4 linked regions of the Homo sapiens genome follow. The protein of the gene in region 3 interacts with the protein of the main gene of each other region in a pairwise test. Each region holds a gene or a part of one and is shown on either strand. Other genes may lie near its edges.

The links. The genes of interacting proteins can lie anywhere in the genome.
Region 1: the proteins of UBIAD1 (region 3) and CPLX4 interact in binary tests that used the Homo sapiens proteins (3 or more experiments, as listed by UniProt).
Region 2: the proteins of UBIAD1 (region 3) and PIGP interact in binary tests that used the Homo sapiens proteins (3 or more experiments, as listed by UniProt).
Region 4: the proteins of UBIAD1 (region 3) and SCN3B interact in binary tests that used the Homo sapiens proteins (3 or more experiments, as listed by UniProt).

Annotation. Positions count from the first base shown.
Region 1 is NC_000018.10:59,298,276-59,301,649, forward strand, and holds part of CPLX4 (complexin-4), read right to left. Parts: intron 1-3,374.
Region 2 is NC_000021.9:37,067,473-37,070,071, forward strand, and holds part of PIGP (phosphatidylinositol N-acetylglucosaminyltransferase subunit P), read right to left. Parts: intron 2,153-2,599; coding exon 2,080-2,152; intron 1-2,079. UniProt on the Homo sapiens protein: Part of the glycosylphosphatidylinositol-N-acetylglucosaminyltransferase (GPI-GnT) complex that catalyzes the transfer of N-acetylglucosamine from UDP-N-acetylglucosamine to phosphatidylinositol and participates in the first step of GPI biosynthesis.
Region 3 is NC_000001.11:11,276,198-11,279,697, reverse strand, and holds part of UBIAD1 (ubiA prenyltransferase domain-containing protein 1), read right to left. Parts: intron 1,285-3,500; exon of another isoform or gene 825-1,284; intron 522-824; exon of another isoform or gene 423-521; intron 1-422. UniProt on the Homo sapiens protein: Prenyltransferase that mediates the formation of menaquinone-4 (MK-4) and coenzyme Q10. MK-4 is a vitamin K2 isoform present at high concentrations in the brain, kidney and pancreas, and is required for endothelial cell development.
Region 4 is NC_000011.10:123,644,625-123,648,124, reverse strand, and holds part of SCN3B (sodium channel regulatory subunit beta-3 precursor), read left to right. Parts: intron 1-2,374; coding exon 2,375-2,538; intron 2,539-3,500. UniProt on the Homo sapiens protein: Regulatory subunit of multiple voltage-gated sodium (Nav) channels directly mediating the depolarization of excitable membranes.

The DNA.
Region 1 (3,374 bases), on a different chromosome or scaffold from region 3:
CTATAGAGTCTCTTGTTCTGTAATGAGAGAGGAGTCTAAAGAAAAATATTCTCTGGGAAAGGTTAACAGTAGCTTACATCCCCAGATGGCTGCTGTCAGATTTTTTGGAGATCAGGTTGTAACATGAGGTGACCTGGGTTTCAGGGAAACAGAAGATTAAAAAGAGTGTCAGAAAAGCTAATGAGAGGAAAGATCTATGTTAGAGCCACCTGAATATGTTGTGACCAGCCTTAAATTTGTTACCAAAGCTCATGAAAAATCATATTAAAAAATGACGATCTTAGTCAAACAGACTACATTGCTTTAAGAAAGATTTCTGCACCTGGTGACTTCTGAGGTGGAGTTAAAGACAGCACCTAAAGAGAGATCTGAATTCTCCCTGTCTGGGTGCTATGTAGGAATGATCAGAAAGAAACATCAGTTGTCTCTAGGTCCAAACAGCACACCAGGTAACCTGGAAACTTCATTCTTCATCTGGAAAGTGGGTTGGAAGGACGAGATGGCTGAAGTCTTTTCCAGTTCTAACACTCTGTGGCTCCCATCCTTGGAGGGGCTGAAGCCCAGCTGCCTTTCCTCAGGGCTCTCTTCTTTGATTCGGTTCCCTGGGCAGAGTGACACAGGAGTCTGGCTCAAGAAATAGCTTGAGAAGCAGATTTCTGATGCAGCAGGAACCACTGATTTTGGGAAGGACAGTCTTCACCCAGGCCCTCCTTGGAGAGCCTGGAGGACAGTCCCACTCCGCGCCAGCCTCCGGAGATAAGTGAAGCCTCTCCCTGCTCTTGGCCAGGGCCTTGGGCCCTCCAAGTGCTTAACGGATTAATTAGTTCCTGGTCAAACTGTTGTGGGATTAATTAGTTAGTTAATCCTTAGGGGCTCCCAGCCAATTGTGCATTTCTATTTATTTTTTATTTGCCTTCCCTAGCGGCTGCTTTCCTTGCTGATCGTCTTCTGGGACTTTTTGCAGGAAGGAGAGGAAAAGCACAAGGTGGACGACTCATTCTCAGTTCATGCCAATGTGGGACATCTGCCCTCTCTTATGCATCCTGAAATCAAATGCAAGTAATCTGAAAAGACATTCCCGGGAATTCTGGCCCCTTCCCTCAGGTTGGTAGTAAGATCCCCAAGCATGTCACCAGGTTTGAACCTGGACAGGGTAACTGCTGTGGGCTTGCAGGGATGGGCAGCTAGAGGGGCTAGAGGAAAGCGTGTCAGCCAGCCAGGAGTATAAAACACCGAACACACTCATGAGGGCTCACGGGATGGTGCTCGCCTGCCTCCCATTCACAGGGAGACTTCAGCGAGGCCACCATCTATGGCTCTGCAGCGCTTGAAGAAGCTTTGGGATGGTTTCCTCCTTCAAGGGTGACTCTGAGGTTCGTTTTATCCTTGTGCTTCTTGCTCAGGGAAGGGAGAGCAGTGCAATTCTACGTTGCCTTATGGAGAGGATCTTGATTGCCCTAACTTTTATCAAAGTGGTTCTCAAAGTAGTTCTCAAAGTGGGTTCTCCAGGACAACAGCATCAACATCTTTTGGGACTTTGCTAGAGATGCACGTGCTGGGACCCTACTCAGACCCACTGAATCAGAAACTCAGGGCTCGGGCCTCGCAATCTGTGATTTAACAAGTCTTCCAGGTGATTCTGGGGCTTGCTGAAGTTTGAGAACCCCTGCTCTACATTTCTTGAAGACAAGGGCTGTAACTTACTCATCTTTCTGTCTCATAACCCAGCAAGGTTTCTGGCATGTAGACACAGACAATTATATGTTTACTGAATAGCCGGGCATGGTGGCTCAAGCCAGTAACCCCAGCTCTTTGGGAAGCTGAGGCGGGGGGATCACCTGAGGTCAGGGGTTCAAGACCAGCATGGCCAATTTGGTGAAACCCCGTCTCTACTAAAAATGCAAAAAATTAGCAGGGAGTGGTGGCACACACCTGTAATCCCAGCTACTAGGGAGGCTGAGGCAGGAGAATCACTTGAACCTGGGAGGCAGAGGTTGCCATAAGCCAAGATCACGCCACTGAACTCCAGCCCGGGCAAAAGAGAGAGACTCTGTCTTAACAAATAAATAAATATTTTTAAAAATTAAAATAAATGTTTACTGAATGATTCAATGAACCTATTGTCAGAGAGGATAACAGCCTTAGTAATACTCAAATTTGTAGGTCCTCTTTGCTGTAAAGAGCTCTGTTTTCGTAGCTATCGGTTTATCTTTATAATTCCATTGGGGCATCGCAGCCTAAATTGCCTGAGTGAGCACATTAGTTCTACCACTTATAGGATGGGTGACCTGGGGCACTTCGTATAGATGGCCTCTTTGAGCTTTATTTCCTTGTCTGTATATGGAGAATTGCATTATTTGCCTTAGAGCTGTGGAAGGTTAATTAGATGGTAACTGAATTATTTAGAATCTGTTAAGCACTCACCCAGTAGTAGCTATTCATAAAAATAATAACCTTCAGAGGTGGGCAGGGGAATTTGCTGTGGGCAGTCTTGCACATGGGGTTAGCTCTGTCAGGAGGCTGTGATGTCCTGGCACCTTACCTCTGACCTAGCAATGACTCCTACCTTCACCCAAAGGCTTGGTTTTTCTAACAAGCCAGGCTTAGTCATTTCCTCTTTAGCACTAGGCTCTCTATTCTAGGAGAAAGCTACCTAGCCAGCCCTAGCTCCCCTTACCTCTTGTCAGGCCCGCCCCTGACTTTTGTGGGTGGCAGAACATAAGTGCTGATAGAAGTTCCTGGCTCACAACCTGGCCCTCTTTTTTTTCCAGTTCCTGGTGCCAGCCCTCACTGGGAAGGGCCTTAGGACCTTGGGTGCATGGCCCCTACCCCACTCCTCAGGCCTAGTCTGCCTGGCCACTCTCAGGAGCACAGATCTGCATCGGAGGCCTGAGAATGCTCTGGAATGCACTTAGGCAGGGCGTTTGGGGTCCTAAGCAGCTTGAGCATAGTCTACAAGAGGGGTGTGGGCTCTGCCTGGGCTAGGCCCTTTGGCCCACAGACTCTTCACCCCGTGTGAAAGAGTGTGGCTAGAAGAGAGACCAAGAGAGCCCTCTAAAACATGGGCCCCAGGGCAGTGGCCTCAGATGTCCAGGTCCAAAGGCAGCAATGGGTGTACTCGATGGCTGTGGTCAGAGAGTCCTGCACTCACCATTGATCTAGAAGTACAAGGCTACTGGCCCTCCACCAGAGCATGGCTGCTTCTGGAGATGATTCTAGTCTTGAAGCCAATTACTCTGGGCTGCAGCCTGTGCCATGGACATCTTATGACTAAAGGTAGGACAACCAGACAAGGCCGTTGAGTGGCTAGAGGAGAAAATGATGCCCTCTGGAACCAAATGTGGGCCTGTAGCCTCATTAGCTCTGGATCCTAA
Region 2 (2,599 bases), on a different chromosome or scaffold from region 3:
TAAATTTTATAAAGTAATATGTGTACATAAGAGACAAATAGTTCCACAAGGCTTACAGTGAAAAACTGCAGTCCTCTATCCCACCATCCCAACCCTGGGGTCTCACTCTCCAAAAAGAAATGCTTTGAGCACTTGAGCTGTCTTCTGGTACTTACCTCCTCATTGCTACAAAACATGCTCATATTACTATTTCCTCATTTTTTTCCATTACAGACATTTTCTCTAGGCTTCCTAATATGGAGATAAGGAATTAACCTCCTCCTATCCTCTTCTATACTTACATTGCAATTTCTCATTATAGCAGCAGGTTTTAGAAATAATTGTACCTACATAAACAATTTTGCAACTGAGGATCTTAGTACATTATTATTATATATTTTCTTGTACAACTTTTTTTTTTCTGGAATAATTACATCTTTTTGTCTGTTCACTTGGTTTCCCAGGAATCCACCAATACCAGAGCCTCAAATTCTCTGATAGGACTCTATTATGCCTCTCAGTATCATTATGTACATGGAGTGCTATTTTTCATTGAGTGTTTTTTTTTTCTTTTTGAGAAAGCATTTCCCTCTGTCACCCAGGCTGGAGTGCAACGGCATGATCACAGATCACTAGCCTCAATCTGCTGAGCTCACTTCAGCCCTGCAAGTAGCTGGGACTATAGGCACACACCACCACACCTGGCTAATTTTTAATTTTTTTGTAGAAATGGGGTCTTGAGATGTTGGCCAGATGTTTTTTTTTTTTTAAATGATTTGTTCTCTATTATTTTCTCTTTCTGGAACTTCTAATAGTTTGAATTTTTAACGATTATACTTTCTTATATTTTCATTTTTTTTTGTTCTAACTTCTAGAGATTACCTTTGTTTTATTTTCCAGTCTTTCAATTAAAATTTTAATTTTGGTTATCATGTTTACAATTTCCAAATACAGTAATTTCCTGTTTGCATAGCATTCTGTTCTTGTTTCATAGTTATAATTGTTTCTTACCTCTGAGAATTTTATGTTATTTAAATTTTTTTTTCTGTTTCCTGCATTATCTCTATTTCCTTCAAATTCCCTTTAATTTTCTGCTTTTTCATTTCATGCTAGAGGCTTTCTTTTAATGTCTGGTAACTTAGAGTAGTCCATTCATATTTAAAAATGAAGTGCTAACAAGTGAGTTGGAAGCACTATGTGTATGTGGGCAGGGATGGTCAACTGGTGAGCCTCACTCTGAGAGACTTGGCCACTTCACTGGGGTCCTCTAAATGTCAGAAATTATAGATCCTTTCTCTCGGGCTGGTCAGCTTCCTCAGGAAAGAACTATCTATCTTTTTCTGTGAGCAGTAGGGTGATATAAGCCTCGAAGCCCCAAGAGGGAAGATGGAGCAGGAGGTAAATCTTCTCATTAAGCCATGTAGATTTTCACTTACTTCCCTGTTTTCAGTAAGATGCCGCATTCCCACACTCAGACTTAGTGGCCCCCATGCTAGAGACTCTTACTTAACCTTGCCAGAGAGTAAAACTCCTGTTTTCTGCAGGGGAGGGCAGGGCAGGCCTCCCAGCTTTGAGGGCTGAGGGAGATTTGAAGGCTGAAGACTTCATATGGTCTTTAAACATGTTTTCAGTTCAACCCAGAATTAAAGAGCTACCTGGTACCCCAATGTCTGAGCTATTCTGGAGTTCTAAGGCACAAATATTCTTGCTGGCTTCCCTACTTCAGCAACGTGAAAATCACAGAAACAAAGGCAGTTACCTCTCACCTATCACAATCCACTTTCCAAAATGTGGTTGATATCTCTTTTCTGCTATACTATTGTTTCTGTGGTTTGTATCTTCAGTTTTTTTTTTTTTTCCTGTAGGGTCATTTTAACAAGATTTTTGGAGGAAATGGATGGAGATAAACATGTGTGTTCATGCTACCATCTTTAATTAGAGATGTATCAATAGCGATCTTTAAAAAGCTTTCAATTTCTATATGGCTATTCATGAATTTTAAGAGAACAAATATTTAAGATTTGGGTAGGTTTAAGAAATGATATGACTCCTCAAAACAGCATTAATTATATCCTCATTTAAGAAATATATTAAACTTACTTTTGAGGCCAATAGGTTAAACCTAAAGAGTTTAGCCAAGATTCAGGAATAAAGGCCCACACGAGGTAAAGTACTGTAGAAAAGAAAAAGAAAAAAAAGAGGAAGAGAAGTCAGTAAGACATACATCTAATCTATCAATCTATTAAGATTCAGATAAAACAGAAAAGCTCTTTTGAAGTGTCCCTGATTAACTCAGAAATGATTTTTTCCTCCTTTCAGTTCTTCTAGCTCGTTTGCACAATTCTTATAATACTTATAATTACTGTATTAGTCTTTTTTTTTAATATCTTAACTCACATTATATTTTAAGCAATTCAAGGATACAAATCATGGCTTAGCAATTGTTGTAATCCTTATTACCTAGCAGTTTGCTTTAGGTACAGTAAGTGTTCAATACTTCATCCCCACAAGGTTGAAGTAATTATAGACATTTAATTGCTCAAAGGGAAATTTACCTACCCTAGTTCTCATCCACCACATACTGAGCTTCTGCCCTATCTCCCAGAGTACAATGTTATTT
Region 3 (3,500 bases):
ATGCCTGTAATCCCAGCACTTTGGTAGGCCAAGGTGGGTGGATCACCTGAGGTCAGGAGTTTGAGACCAGTCTGGACAACATGGTGAAACACCGTCTCTGCTAAAAATACAAAATTAGCCAGGCATGGTGGCAGACGCCTGTAATCCCAGCTACTTGGGAGGCTGAGAATCACTTGAACCCGGGAGGCAGAGGCTGCAGTGAGCCGAGATCATGCCACTGCACTCCAGCCTGGGAGACGGAGTGAGACTCTGTCTCAAAACAAACAAAAAACAAAACAAAAAACCACGAAGTCAATTGCTTGCTTTTCCCCCAAAACTTGTTCTATCCCCAGCCTTGCCCTTCTCACATGATGACATCACTCCAGATGGTATCTTCCAGTTCTCAGGTCAAAACCTTTGAGTTATGCTTATGCAGCTATTGATAGGCAATGGTATGATTAACTGGGGCCTTAAAGATGATGAAGATATGACATTTACAAGGTGGACAGGCATGATTATTGGGCCACCAAGGACAAATTATGAAAAGAGAATATAGGCCGGGCATGGCAGTTCACACCTATAATCCCAGAACTTTGGGAGGCCAAGGAGGGCAGATCACGAGGTCAGGAGTTTGAGACTAGTCTGCCCAACATAGTGAAACCTCATCTCTACTAAAAATACAAAAAATTAGCTGGGTGTGGTGGTGTGCACCTGTAATCCCAGCTACTCGGGAAGCTGAGGCAGGAGAATCACATGAACCTAGGAAGCAGAGGTTGCAGTGAGCCGAGATCACGCCACTGCGCTCCCGTGTGGGCCACAGCGCGAGCCTCTGTCTCAAAAATAAAAAAAAAGAATATATAGCCTGAAAATAGAAAGTGGACCCAAATACCCAGAAGCTCCCCCATCAGTTAGATTTGTAACAAGAATTAATATGAATGGAATAAATAACTCCAGTGGGATGGTGGATGACCGCAGCACACCAGTGTTAGCAAAATGACAAAATTCATATAGCATTAAAGTTGTACTTCAGGAGCTAAGACGTCTAATGATGTCCAAAGAAAATATGAAGCTTCCACAGCCACTGGAAGGACAAACATACAACAATTAATTTTAGTGGATCTCAAACTTGTCTTATATCAACAACCTTCTACTCGTGTTAATGTCTTGATTAAATATCACAATGCAAAATACCCACACGTTAAATAAAAGAACTCCGGCTGGTAAACATGACCTGGACATTTGTAAGAATATATTTAATATATGTACACCCATTATGTTTTCAGGTAACAGGAAAAATGCAACCCAATTTTTTTCTCTTGTTAAGGTACTGTCATTTAAACATAAACTTGGAGTACTCGAAATATAATTCAGGTTTACAAGATGAAAGCGTGGTAAGAAGTGTCAGATGGCAGTGGAAGCATGTGTGTTTCTAAAGACTAAAAATCTCAATAAAGAAAACAGGGCTGGGCACAGTGGCTCATGTCTGTAATCCCAGCACTTTGGGAGGCTCAGGCGAGCAGATCACTTGAGGCCAGGAGTTCAAGACCAGCCTGGCCAACATAGTGAAAGTCCGTCCCTACAAAAAATCCAAAAATTAACCAGGCGTGGTAGCACGCGCCTGTAGTCCCAGCTACTTAGGAGACTGAGGTAGGATGATCGCTTGATCCCGGGAGGCAGAAGTTGCAGTGAGCTGAGATCGCACCACTGCACTCTAGCCTGAGTGACAGAGTAAGACCCCCATCTCAAACAAAAAAGGAAAGGAAAAAGAAAACAGAGGCCAGGAGAGGTGGCTCACACCTTTAATGCCAGCACTTTGGGAGGCCAAGGTGGGCAGATCACCTGAGGTCAGGAGTTTGAGACCAGCCTGACCAACATGGAGAAACCCTGTCTCTACTAAAAATACAAAATTAGCAGGGCGTGGTGGCCCATGCCTGTAATCCCAGCTACTTGGGAGGCGGAGGCAGAACTGCTTGAACCCCGGAGGTGGAGGTTGTGGTGAGCCGAGATCGTGCCATTGTACTCCAGCCTGGGCAACAAGAGCAAAATTCTGTCTCAAGAAAAAAGAAAACAGAAATGGCATGCTTTATCCATCTTGCTTAGTGAAAGAGAGCTGCAGTTGAAATTGTTTAAAAAGTAGCAGGTATTGGCCAGGCATAGTGGCTCACGCCTGTAATCCCAGCACTTTAGGAGGCCAAGGAGGGTTGATCACTTGAGGTGAGGAGTTAGAGAGACCAGCCTGGCCAACATGGCGAAACCCCGTCTCTACTAAAAATACAAAAATTAGCCAGGCGGGCACCTGTAATCCCAGCTACTGGGATTATACTTGAACCTGGGAGGCGGAGATTGTGGTAAGCCAAGATCGCACCACTGTACCCCAGCCTAGGCGACAGAGCAAGACTCCGTTAAATTAAAAAAAAAAAAAAAAGTAGCAGGTACAATGAACACTGTCACAAATGTGTTTGATTTTTTTAATTTTTTTTATTTTTTTGAGATGGAGTCTTGTTCTGTTGCCCAGGCTGGAATGCAGTGATGAGATCTTGGCTCACTACAACCTCCCAGGTTCAAGCGATTCTCCTACCTCAGCCTCCCAAGTAGCTGGGACTACAGGCATGCACCACCATGCCCAGCTTATTTTTGTATTTTTAGTAGAGATGGGGTTTCACCATGCTGGCCAGGCTGGTCTCGAACTCCTGAACTCAGGTGATCTGCCTGCCTCAGCCTCCCAAAGTGTTGGGATTATGGGTAAAAACTACCACATCCAGCACAAATGTGTTAATTTTTGAAGTGGTGTGGGTGCTGACTACTAGTAGTATGAAAAATATGTTCAGGATTGTTTTGATACCTATCTTATAATAAAAAATGTTGGGGGGGAGTTGATGAATTTCTGTTAAAAGCTGTTCATGTGTGTTACACGTAACAGACATGGTAAATATTTGCTTACAGTTTTTTTTTTTTAACAAACTATGCACTTAAGGTTAAGTGACATCAACAAAAAAGGGATACATATATGGAGATATAATTTTGAAACTAAAGTTGGTCTTTTTTTTTTTTTTTTGAGATGGAGCCTCTCTCTGTTGCCCAGGCTGGAATGCAGTGGCATGATCTCAGCTCACTGCAACCTCTGCCTACTGGGCTCAAGCAATCCTCCTGCCTCAGCCTCCCGAGTAGCTAGGACTACAGGCACATGCCACCACGCCTGGCTAATTTTTGTATTTTTAGTACAGACAAGGTTTCACCATGTTGGCCAGGCTGGTCTGGAACTCCTGATCTCAAGTGATCCACTTGCCTTGGCCTCCCGAAGTGCTGAGATTACAGGCATGAGGCACAGCACCCAGCCCAAAGTTAGTCTGAAAATGTAAATAAAATGTGGAATGTGTCCAAGAAAAAAAAAAACCTTTGAGTTATGCTTAATTCCTCTGTTTCTCTTTACCTCACATCCAATCCATCAGCAAACCCTGTCTACCTTCAAAGCATATTTAGAATCTGGCTACTTACCTCTTCCACTACCACCCGCTAGATAC
Region 4 (3,500 bases), on a different chromosome or scaffold from region 3:
GGTTCCATACTACACGGAGTTCTTGCTGCATACGCTCTACCCCTCTGCCCACTCACAAACTTTTGCGCAAACCACATTTCCTTTTTGTTTAATCAGATCTATAATCAATACTTCAGACTCATCATATGCTGAAGATGTTTCTGATCAGTTCTCCCTAGATGTGAGTCCTCTCTCCATTAACGTGGCTCACCATCTGCAGAAGCAATAGGTCCTCTTGAAGACTGTCAGATAAGACTCACCCAGCTTGCTGGAGAGTTGAAAACCCAATTACATTTATTTTACCTTGATGTTTACAACTTTAAGTTAATTCTAGTGCCACTAGTTTTTAAACTCCATGTTTTAAAATAAATACATTGCCTTCTAAGTCAATCAAACACAGTTTTTGGACTCAAAATTAATTTATGGCAGTGTCTTATTAAGCTCTAAATAAAACCTTCCTCTGCTTTTAGGAAAGAACGCTCTGCCAGGAGATGAACAGGCTGACCATTAACAGTGGACTAGTTTTTAAATGTAGTGTGTATTATTTCTTTTTTTTTCTGGGGGTTCTGTTTTTATTATTAATTCATGAAAAAGTAGCATCAGAAGGGATCTTCAAAGTCCTAATATAAGAATCTGCGGTGACCATCATGTTGTTTTTATTTTTTCAAGAGATAGGGTCTTACTCTGTCAACCAGTCTGGAGTGCAGTGGTGCCATCATAGCTCATTGCAGCCTCAAACTCCTGGGCTCAAGCAATCCTCTTACCTCCTGAGTGGTTGGGACTACAGTTGTGTGTTACCATGTTTGGCTAATTTTTATTTTATTTTATTTTTGTAGACTCAGGGGTCTCACTATGTTGCCCAGGCTTGTCTCAGACCCCTAACATCAAGCAATCCTCTCAACTTAGCCTCCCAAAGTGCTGGGATTGCAGGTGTGAGCCACAGCACCTGGCCTCGTCTTACTTTCAAATATCCCAAACAATGCTGTGTACACTCTCTTAGCATTTAGTTATTTGCATTTGTGAACAGCTCCAAAATCATAAAATTCTTTCTTTATTGCATTAAACTTATTTTTTTCTTATAACTTTTAGGGTTGGGCAGAATCAAATTTCTCTTCCATCTGCCAGCCTTCAAATATTTGAAGACAGATATGTTCTGTGTCCAAGCTAAGCAACTCGAATTCTCCCATTTTTTCCTCACCAGACTTTATCTCCAGATCCTTCACCATCTCCCTCACCTCTGGGCATGCACTCTTTGAACAACTTCCTTTTTTAAAATGTGACATCCTGAACTGATCATAATAGTCCAGATTTGTTCCAAAAACAGTGCCGAGAAACTACGCCTCCTTCCTCCTGCGTACTGTACATCTGTTAATGCAGCTCACATTTGCGCATGTTTTGCTGGCAGCCTTGTCCCGCTCAAGTTATTCTGAATTATCAAGCTGATATACTTGCCTCCTTTTAAAAAACAGACTTCAAGTTTCTAGAGGGCAGAAACACTAAGTCTTAGACCTCTGTGTGGCATGCAAGGTGTCCCACAATCTGACCCCGCTCCAGATTTTAACTTGCCTTGCTATACTCCTCTGCATAGACCATTGTTCCAGCTTAGTGGTCCGCTCGCCATTTTCTTCACTGCTGCTCCAACCTCCACCATGTGTCAGAATTACCTACAGTTTTCACACAACACAGATACAATTACATCTCTCCACGACTTTAAAACATTGGATACCTCACACTGGAAGGGACACACAGAGGTCTTCACAGCATGGGCCCTGCCTACCTTTCTAGCCTCATGTTTCACCATCCTTCTCTTCCTTTCTCCCCAGGCCAACTGGGAGTAACTAACTGCCTGTCTTCTAAGAACAGAATATATCATGAGTGTGTTACTTGCTGTGGTCTGGTTTAATCCTAGTTAGGAATATGTGTTCCCTATTGGATTATAAATGCATTTAGGGCATGGTTAGTGTTTTATTCATCTTTGCATCTCTAGTCTAGCATCAGACCTGGCAGAGAGTGGATTTTAATGAGTGGTGGTGGAATGAAGGGGGATGGATGGTTGCTGGGTAGGTAGATGCCCTGTCTCCCATTTGGGCTATAAGACTTAGAGAGCAGGGCTCAAGTATAATGTACGGTGCTGCATCTCCACTGCTTCCAGGGGAAGGATTTCAGTCAATGTCTAGATCATCCAGGTCTCCTCCAATGTGTACACGTTCTGAGCCTGTACATTCAGGGAGCGCAGGTGAAGGTGTAGACATGTGCACGTGGCTTTTTTCAGGTTGGCCTCATGACTCTTCCTTCTCTGTCTCTCTTCCCTCCCTCCTTCTTCTCCAATGTTTCTCTCCTGTGCCCCTCCCCCACCACCTGCTGTTCCTTCCCTGTCCATCTGTCCTCTCTGCAGTCAGTGTCTGCTTCCCTGTGTGTGTGGAAGTGCCCTCGGAGACGGAGGCCGTGCAGGGCAACCCCATGAAGCTGCGCTGCATCTCCTGCATGAAGAGAGAGGAGGTGGAGGCCACCACGGTGGTGGAATGGTTCTACAGGCCCGAGGGCGGTAAAGATTTCCTTGTATGTTAGACTGCTGACTCTGGCCTTTCTTCTGCTGGCCTCTGCTGTTCCCAGCCTGGCTCCTGACAGTCCGGGGGATGCCAAGCTAGCAAACACTGGCTCCTTCTCTTCCAAACACTGACAGATCCTCAGCAGATAACTGACAGCCTTAGTGAAGCCCCAGCTTCTGTGAGAGAAAGGGCACTGGGCCAGCTGCAAGCACCCTTGATTATGGGCTGGAGGAAGCAGAGGAAAGAGATATGCTATATTTAAAGCCTACTATGTGATAGGCGCCCTACCACACATTTTGCAGGTGTTTTCATCTAATCTTCTGTGCCATCCTATTATATGCATTAAATTCATAAAGAAATTGGAATAACACAAAGCATCATTATGTGAAATAACAAAGGTTAGCTCCTTTAACTCCTGCAGTCCCATTGAAATAGGAATGACAGGGATGACAAAGAGTGATCCAAGGGTGACATTCACCCGGGACACCCAGCACAGCCACATCAGTGAGTCAATTATGTCAAACAGTTCTCTCGTGGATACTTGCTGTGCCGAGTCTCCTAAGTGGCTGAACCCCCAGACTTATCCATGATTTGGAAACGAAGAGATTCGCTCCTGGCAGAGCTGGGAGTCTTCCAGATTCTGCTCCTGCACCATAGCCAGTGTCAGTTCTGGGTGGTTGGTGCCAGTGGCAAAGTGGTTGTATATGTGTGTGTATATATATATATGTATGTGTGTGTGTATATATGTGTGTGTGTATATATATATATATATATATATATATATATATATATATATTCTCTCTCTCTCTCTCTCTCTCTCTCTCTCTCTCAACGGGGTCTCCCTCTGTCACCCAGCTGGAGTGCAGTGGTGTGATCTCGCTTACTGTAACCTCCACCTCCCAGATTCAAGCGATTCTCCCACCTCAGCCTCCCCAGTAGCTGGGACTATAGGCACCACCACCATGCCCAGCT